3 separate regions of the Homo sapiens genome follow, and all the other regions are linked to region 2. Evidence: fine-mapped expression QTL. A gene starts in region 2. Each other region holds a variant in brackets. All regions are shown on one strand. Distances are between the middles of the regions. Region 1 has its middle 69 kb from the start of FN1. Region 2 holds the start of FN1 (fibronectin 1). Region 3 overlaps LINC02862 (long intergenic non-protein coding RNA 2862).

Region 1 (2,848 bases), 70 kb after region 2:
ATTTCTTATTTGCAAAATGGGACTAACAATATAATCCATAAAGTTTCTGTGAGAAAATGCAGGGATAATTATAGAAAGCAGGTAGTGCTGTATCTGGTGGATTAAAGGTCTGTTCCCTTCCCTTTCCTATGGAGGAGGCCATGCCACTAGAAAAACACCTTTAGACCCACAAACTTTTGCTTTTAAATAAAATTAGTTTCCTATTTGTGGGTATCATGAAAATTCTTAGATAGACTTCCACAAAATTTGGAAAGTATTGTTTAGGAAGATCTGATTTAGAATTTGGGTTATGTGGCATATGATAAGAATCACTTTAGGAGATCCTGGGAAGCCTCAAAGAAGTAGGCAGTCATCATACAGGAGCTGAAAGTAGGGTTGAACAAGGGGTATGAATAAACGTCATTTAGGAGAGGCCTGTCATATTCAGTAATATGCCCATAGATGGAACAAAATGGAACATTGGTTTCCAATAGGTCCTTAAATTGAAAGCCATAAGGGTAGGTGCTTTGCAAAGCAGGTATGATTTGTATCCAAATTACCTCTCACATGGGCACCTTGTGGATTTCTCTGGACAGAAGTGCAGCAGGAACCTACTTTTTAATGAATAATGGTTATTGAGTCATTCAAACATCCCAGAATAGCCAGTGGGACCTGGCTGTTCTCCCTTCAAGTTCTTCGCCACCTGTAAGTCACAGAGCCACAGCTGTGGTTCTTCTGCAGGGGCCACAGAGCCCTTCCTCTGCACTTGGAAAAAAATGTCATGTGCTGACTCCAAGAGTGAGTCTTCTGGGGGTACAGGAGACACAGAAACAGAAACTTTCCAAGAAAAACACACTGACTAAACCAAATGACAGAGCAGAAAACATTTTCTGATAAGGCAAAGGGTAATAACTTGGTGAGAATTACACAGGTAATTAAATAGTTGTTTCCAAGGGCTAGGAAAAGACAGGCATCGTCTGTGTTGGACAGAAGGGGAGTTTTGGATTTATTAACATGGATATGAGGGTTTAGGGTTATTTGTGTTTGTGGTAAAGAGCTCAGAGAAGAAGTCTTTATTTACTGCCTAAAGATTTAGTAAGTCAATTTGTTCCCTGCCTTCTATCTCATCCACAGACAATATCTTCTTAAATAGGATACTAGATTGCATGCATGATGTTAAACAAACGTGGAGTAGGAAAATCACCTTATTGAAATAGCTCTTGAGGTGTCCTTAACTCACAAGAACATTGGGAAATTTTCAGACTTTCTCACCAACAGAGGACATAAATACCAAAGGCAAGATGTAAAGTTATGCAAACCTCTGTGGCTGGAATAAATATTTTGTACTTATGGAAAGTCCACTAGAAGACCACTTCTGAATTCAGATCTGTATCAATTAATGGAAGAAAAAAATGGGTTGGAGGAGCCAAATGGGGAATGTTACAAGACGTATTAATGTATAATCAAAATTTAGAAATAGAGGTGGTTCTGAATTGGAATTGGCTTTAGATAAAATACAGAACAGGAAAGAATGGGAGTCCTCTGTTCTAGAAGGGTAGGCTGGCTACAATCGGGTGAATAAGACAATTTCATAAGAAAACGT[T/C]TTGAAAGAATATGAGAGGAAACTGCAAGAGCAGAAGAAAGTAATAAACTCATTGCACAAGAATTTCAGAAGAACTAGGGTCAAAAATACAGTCACAATCTGGCAGCTTTCAGGAGGAGGTGGGGAGTAGATAAGGACAAAGAGGTGGGAAGGGAGATAGGGCCAAGTCCAAAGTGCCTTTCAGACTCTCCCTGAGTCAGCAAACCTTGCTTCTTTTTACTTTTACTTTTTCTGTGGGCTCTGAATGGTTCTTTTAATCTATATTCAGGCAGAGTAACAGGCGTGATGAATTTATAATGTAAAAGGTACACTTTGGGAGGCTGAGGCGGGAGGATCACGAAGTCAGGAGATCGAGACCATCCTGGCTAACACGGTGAAACCCCGCCTCTACTAAAGATACAAAAAATTAGCCGGGCGTGGTGGCGGGCGCCTGTAGTCCCAGCTACTCGGGAGGCTGAGGCAGGAGAATGGCGTGAACCCGGGAGGCGGAGGTTGCAGTGAGCCGAGATCACGCCACTGCACTCCAGCCTGGGCGACAGAGTGAGACTCCGCTTCAAAAAAAAAAAAAAAAAAAAAAAGCCAGAAACGCTCACTAGGCAAAAAAAAAAACTTCTCTTCGAGCAGCCTGGTAGGGCCTCTAGCTGGAGAATATTCAGTTGTGTTAAGGCATCTTAGTAGAGCACCAGTGGTATCTGGAAGAAGGTGCCCCCAAAAGCCTCTATCCCTCATCAGCAGGTTTACACAATTCATCGAACAGATTTAATAGTTACAGATTACTCTGTTAACTAGATTTTGAGAAAACAGTGCAGAGTGTTGGCAGAGCAAAGAGAGAAAATCAAATTCTGGAGTGTGGAATGTTTACCCAAAAGAAATGGCAGTAGCAGGAACTAGGAGCCTGAAGGGGGTGCCTTTGTGTAAAAATGTTTTTGATTTCTGATGCCTACAGCTGGATTTTTAATGTAGCTCAAGTCCGACAGAATGCAGGTAGGAAAAAGAAAGCAGCAATGAATTGTTTGCCTCTTCTTTAAACTCTGTTTCTGAAAATAAAATTTGTTAGTATTTTAAACTTAAAACCCTTCATGATTATTATATCCTTAGTTCTTATGTGTCACTGATATACTAAAATAGGTTGTGAATATGATAGAAAGTGAGATGAAAGAGAGAGAGTGTGGTAAGGCTGTGGGTCTGTGAAACTCCAAGGCCAGATGCTGCTCACCTTATTATGGAACAGGTATGTTGATTCAAGCACAGGGTCAAAGGAATGGG
Region 2 (2,500 bases):
TTTAAACTTAAGAGGAAATGACAGGTAATTCTATTAGAAAAATGGTGTATGTATTTTTACTTACTAATGCAAAGTTTAACAATTACCACTTCATGTATTAAAAGATACTAACTATGGGGCTTGTTGTCACTTACCTTCAGGTTTACTCTCGCAGTTAAAACCTCGGCTTCCTCCATAACAAGTACAAACCAACGCATTGCCTAGGTAGGTCCGCTCCCACTGTTGATTTATCTGATAGTGTTTTCCATTGTCATAACAACCGGCTGCAAATAATTGAAGGAAAACGTTACATTTGCATTTCTCCTTTTCCCAAAATTATGGAATTTTCTTCATGTGAATATTGACGTACATATTTTTTTCCTTTTAACTTTGCTAAAAGTTATATACAATGATGTCATTTCCATCTGGCCAGGGGTCTACATAAAAAAGTTGGAAACATTTTGGAAGGCAGACAATTGAAGTCACATTTTTAAAACATGCAAGGAACTTAAATATTCTTTTGGAGTAATAGTCAAAAAGGACAACTTTAAGCAGCTTTCTCAAAGCAAAAGGAGGGTGTGTCTTTGAAAAACGGAAAGAATTCCAACCTCTGTTCTTGGTGAAGTATCCTGAGCGGCCCTAAAGAGGTCTGAACCAATTACATCTCTTCCAAGTTAGTTAGAAACAAGACAGCTATTTCAATACCCCCTTTCCACCCCCATGTTGAAAATATTTGACCAATTATTTAACAGAAGGAAATAAGTAGCAGTAAGGACCACACTAATCCCAGACGGAAAATTTATAGACATGCATCATTTTTCTCTTTAAAGGCAAGTTTTGGTTAATTCCTAGAAGGACAATCTGAACGTGCAGAATTTATTAGAACACGGGAAAGTCGCAGAGTCCTCGTCCTCCAATGCACGGTCTTATCATCCCAGGCCCTCAGAACCAGCGTGCTCAAAACTCGGTCCTTTTGTGTGCACAGCTGGTTTCTCTCAGTAAAGCGCGCACACACTCGCACACACGCGCGCGCACAAAACTTCAGCCCCAACTTTGGTCGGCTTTAGGGTCCCATCCCTGAGGCAGCCTGTTTCAGCCCGCGGTCAGTACTCACGCTTGCTTTGACTGACAGCCACCGGGGACTGGGGCTGAACCATTTGCTGAGCCTGCCTCTTGCTCTTCGAGGCTCCCGTGGAGGGCACCGCTGTCCCCAGGCACTGGACGGCCAGCAGCAGCAGCCCGGGCCCCGGACCCCTAAGCATGTTGAGACGGTGGGGGAGAGACGCCCGCACCGGGAGGCAAGTTGCCACCAAGTTTGCTTCCCTTCGCAACCTGCGGGAAAAATCCCTTCTAATGCCTCCCGGGGGTTGTCGCCTCCAAGAAGGTGGGGGCCAGAGGGTGGGGAAGGGGACGGGTGGAGGGACAGAAGGGATGCAGAGGACCAGAGAAGTTGTGGCTGCAGGTCCCCTCTTCCCGCTCGCGCCTGGGGTTCCCTCTCCTCCCCCTGTGCAGCACAGCCGGCGCGGGCGTCCGAGCGCCGGGAGCCGGGGCTTATATGGGACGGTCCCCTCCCGCCCCTCTGGAGGCCCGGGGCGCGGGGGAGGAGAGACCCGCCGGGCTGTCCCCGCCCCGCCCCACCCCACCCGCCCGCCCGCCCGCCGGCCGCCGCAGCCGACCGCGCGCCGATTGGCCCGGGCTCCGGGTGACGTCACGGGGGACTGTGGGTTCGCAGCGAACAAAAGAGATGCTGATGGCCCGCCAGGACTGGGGCAAGACAACTTTTTTTCGGTTTCCTTTGCGGTCATCAAACTTTTTAGGGGATGGGGGAAGGGATGGGAAGCGGCTGGGAGGAAAGGGAGTGGCTGGACTTGTGTGAAGCGAAGGGGTTGCAAGACGCTCCCCCTTCCCTTTTCTTTTTTATTGGGGGTGGTGGTAGTGTTTGAGGACATTGCGTCACCTCTCTTCGGGGTGGAGGGGGGGAATCTCTGCTTATAGGAGTGTATTTTGTGAGGAAGAAAACCCATAAAATATCCACGACCTTGCAGCTGTTAAGAATCCAGACTTTTCAGTCCCAGGGCGGGGCTGCCTTTCCCCCCATCCCGCTCCCTTTCTTTGGACTAAAGGGTACTGACTCGGGACTCCCTTATTTTGTCTTCACAGCTCCCTGTTCGGACTTCTTCCCTTCTCAGCGCTGTGCCTGTCTGGCTCTGAGAAAGGGCCAGCGGGCGAACGGGGAGCAAAGGGGAACAGAGACCTTTAATGAGCTTCTACTAAGTACCGGGAGTTCCGCGGGGCGCTTTGCAGATCCCGGGGAAGTTCAGAGAATGAAGTTTTCTTTTGCAAGGACAAAGTAACAGTTTACTTTTTTACACATGCAGGAAAGCCTTCCTTTCCTGGGGATGGGACGCCCGTTTCCACTGAAAGTGAAATCACTGTGAACAACCTGAAAATTGGAAAGTTGGACCAGCTGTGGGGAGAGAAAGGTCTTCGTGTCCTTTCCCACGTTCACCGTGCCAGTTAC
Region 3 (2,848 bases), 160 kb before region 2:
AAATTTCTGTTATCTTTTCCCTGATTATAAAAGTAATACATGTTCATTACAGAAATATGTAATAAGAAAGCAAAATCATTCATAATCATACCACATTTAAATAAAGCAATCCTAATATTTGTATATACTATTTCCCATTTTTTCTATGGGTATTCATATATGGTTATATTTCTTTTCTTTTTTTATTTTTTTTTGAGACGGAGTCTCACTGTGTTGCCCAGGCTGGAGTGCAGTGGTGCAATCTCAGCTCACTGCAAGCTCCGCCTCCTGGGTTCACACCATTCTCCTGCCTCAGCCTCCCGAGTAGCTGGGACTACAGGTGCCTGCCACCACGCCTGGCTAATTTTTTGTATTTTTAGTAGAGATGGGTTTTCACCATGTTAGCCAGGATGGTCTCGATCTCCTGACCTCGTGATCCACCTGCCTTGGCCTCCCAAAGTGCTGGGATTACAGGCATAAGCCACCGCACCCAGCTCATAAATGTTTATATTTCTACATAGCTGAGATAATAATGTATGCATTAGTGTGAATCTTATTTTTTTGTTTGTTTGCTTTTGAGACAGGGTCTTGCTCTGTCACCCAGGCTGGAGTTCACTGGCATGATCATGGCTCACTGCAGCCTCCATCTCCTGGACTCAGGTGATCCTCCCACCTCACCCTCTGGAATAGCTGGGACTTCAGGCATGTACCACTACGCCCAGCTAATTTTTTTTATTTTTTGTAGAGACGGAGCTTCACCATGTTGCCCAGGCTGGTCTTGAACATCTGGACTCAAGTTATCTGTCACCTTGGCCTCCCAAAGTGCTGGGATTACAGGCATGAGCCACAGCACCTTGCTTATTCTTTTGTTTGCTATTAAAATATAAGCATTTTCTAGTCAATAAAAATTAACCAAGAACATAATTTGCAATGGCTGCATAATATTCTGTTATATTGAAGTTATAATAGATGTGAGGAGTTTCCTATTGCTGAATATTTACTTTTTCTAGAGGTTAAGAAGAGCTTTTAGAGTCAGAAAGACTTGACTTGTTGACTCTAAAGTCCTGGCTGGTGGTGGGTGCAGTGACTCACGCCCATAATCTCAACACTTTGGGAGGCCGAGGTGGGTGGATCACTTGAGGTCAGGAGTTTCCGACAAGCCTGGTCAACAGGGTGAAACCCTGTCTCTGCTAAAAATATAAAAATTCTGGGTGTGGTAGTGCATGCCTGTAGTCCTAGCTACTTGGGAGGCTGAGGTATGATAATTGCTTGAACCCAGGAGGTGGAGGTTGCAGTGAGGCAAGATTGCACCACTGCACTCCAGCCTGGGAGACAGAA[C/T]GAGTCTTTGCCTTAAAAAAAAAAAAAAAAAAAAAAAATATATATATATATATATATATATACACACACACATACATAAAGTCCTGGGCCAGGCGCGGTGGTGGCTCATGCCTGTAATCCCAGTACTTTGGGAGGCCGAGGCAGGTGGGTCACTTGAGGTCGGGGTTTGAAACCAGCCTGACCAACATGGTGAAATCCTGTCTCTACTAAAAAAAAAAAAAAAAAAAAAAAAATTAGCTGGGCATGGTGGCATGTGTCTGTAATCCCAGTTACTCTGGAGGCTGAGGCAGGAGAATCGCTTGAACCTAGGAGGCAGAGGTTGCAGTGAGCAGAGATTGTGCCACTGCACTCCAGTCTGGGCCACAGAGCAAGACCCTGTCTCAAACAAACAAACAAAAGAAAAAAAGTCCTGGCTGGCTCTGCCACTTATTAGCTATGTGACTTTAGTCAAGTTACGTACTCTCTCTAAAGTGCAATTTTCTCATCTGTAAAAATTGGGATTATTATACAAGCTACTTCATAGGGTGGTTGTGATAGTAAATAAAGATTATGCATATAAAACAGTGCATCACAGTGTCTGACTTTTCTCAGTAAATGTTAATTATTTTGATACTGTGATAAATATCTTAGCTCATACAGCTTTGGTCTAGTTTTATGAAATTATTTAATTTAGAAAATGCCAAGAAGACTTGAAATAAACATAGAGATCTATATTTTAAAGATTATTTTTCAGCTTTCAATTTGACCAAGAGAATAACGACTGTTAGATTCCTGTAAGCAAACTATTAGGTTGCTGCAAAAGTAATTGCGGTTTTTGACCTTGAAAGTTATGGCACAAACCGCAATTACTTTTGCACCAACATAATAAGACAGCATGGAAAAGTTTGGATTTAAATGATGGAAGAACAAAAGCATTTTATGAATGTCTACTTCACTTGGAATTATTCATATTCCTCAGATGTGTTAAAAATTGAAAGATGAGGCCAGCGTGGGAGGCTAACGCCTGTAATCCCAGCACTTTGGGAGGCCGAAATGTGCGAATCACGAGGTCAGGAGATCGAGACCATCCTGGCTAACCCGGTGAAACGCCGTCTCTACTAAAAATACAAAAAAATTAGCCAGGCGTGTTGGCGGGCGCCTGTAGTCCCAGCTACTTGGGAGGCTGAAGCAGGAGAATGGCGTGAACCCAGGAGGCGGAGCTTGCAGTGAGCCGAGATCCCGCCACGGCACTCCAGCCTGGGCGACAGAGCGAGACTCTGTCTCAAGAAAAAAAAAAAAAATTGAAAGATGACTGGTTCACTTAGTGAAAGATAGAAAAAAGGAAGGAGGGGAAGGAGGGAAGGAAAACGGGAGGAAGGGAGGGAAGGAAGGAAGGAGGGAAGAAGGGAGGGAGGGAAGGAAGGAAGGAGGGAAGGAGGGACGGAGGGAAGGAGGGAGGGAGGGGAGGGGAAGGGAAGGGAGGTGGAAAGGGAAGGGGAGGGAAGGAAGGAAAGGGAAGGGAGGGAGGGAGGAAGGAGGGAGGGAGGGAAGG

The links.
Region 1: its variant is fine-mapped to the expression of FN1 in blood mononuclear cells (TOPMed, PIP above 0.99).
Region 3: its variant is fine-mapped to the expression of FN1 in lymphoblastoid cells (TwinsUK, PIP 0.95).

What each region holds. Positions count from the first base shown.
Region 1 is chr2:215,503,989-215,506,836 of GRCh38, forward strand. No RefSeq gene overlaps it. Among named protein-coding and RNA genes, the nearest start is that of FN1, 69 kb to the left of the region's middle. The variant T/C (reference allele first, on the strand shown) is at 1,583.
Region 2 is chr2:215,434,562-215,437,061 of GRCh38, forward strand. It overlaps FN1 (fibronectin 1), which reads right to left and starts at 1,507. Exons shown (of 46, transcript NM_212482.4): 1 at 1,094-1,507; 2 at 135-263. The coding sequence starts at 1,241. FN1-DT (FN1 divergent transcript) reads left to right here and starts at 1,130. Exons shown (of 2, transcript NR_187198.1): 1 at 1,130-1,748; 2 at 2,358-2,500. RefSeq lists an enhancer at 1-18 and silencers at 1,531-1,590, 1,601-1,690.
Region 3 is chr2:215,277,045-215,279,892 of GRCh38, forward strand. LINC02862 (long intergenic non-protein coding RNA 2862) reads left to right here. Exons shown (of 3, transcript NR_174956.1): 2 at 564-639; 3 at 725-903. Among named protein-coding and RNA genes, the nearest start is that of LINC02862, 3.5 kb to the left of the region's middle. The variant C/T (reference allele first, on the strand shown) is at 1,318.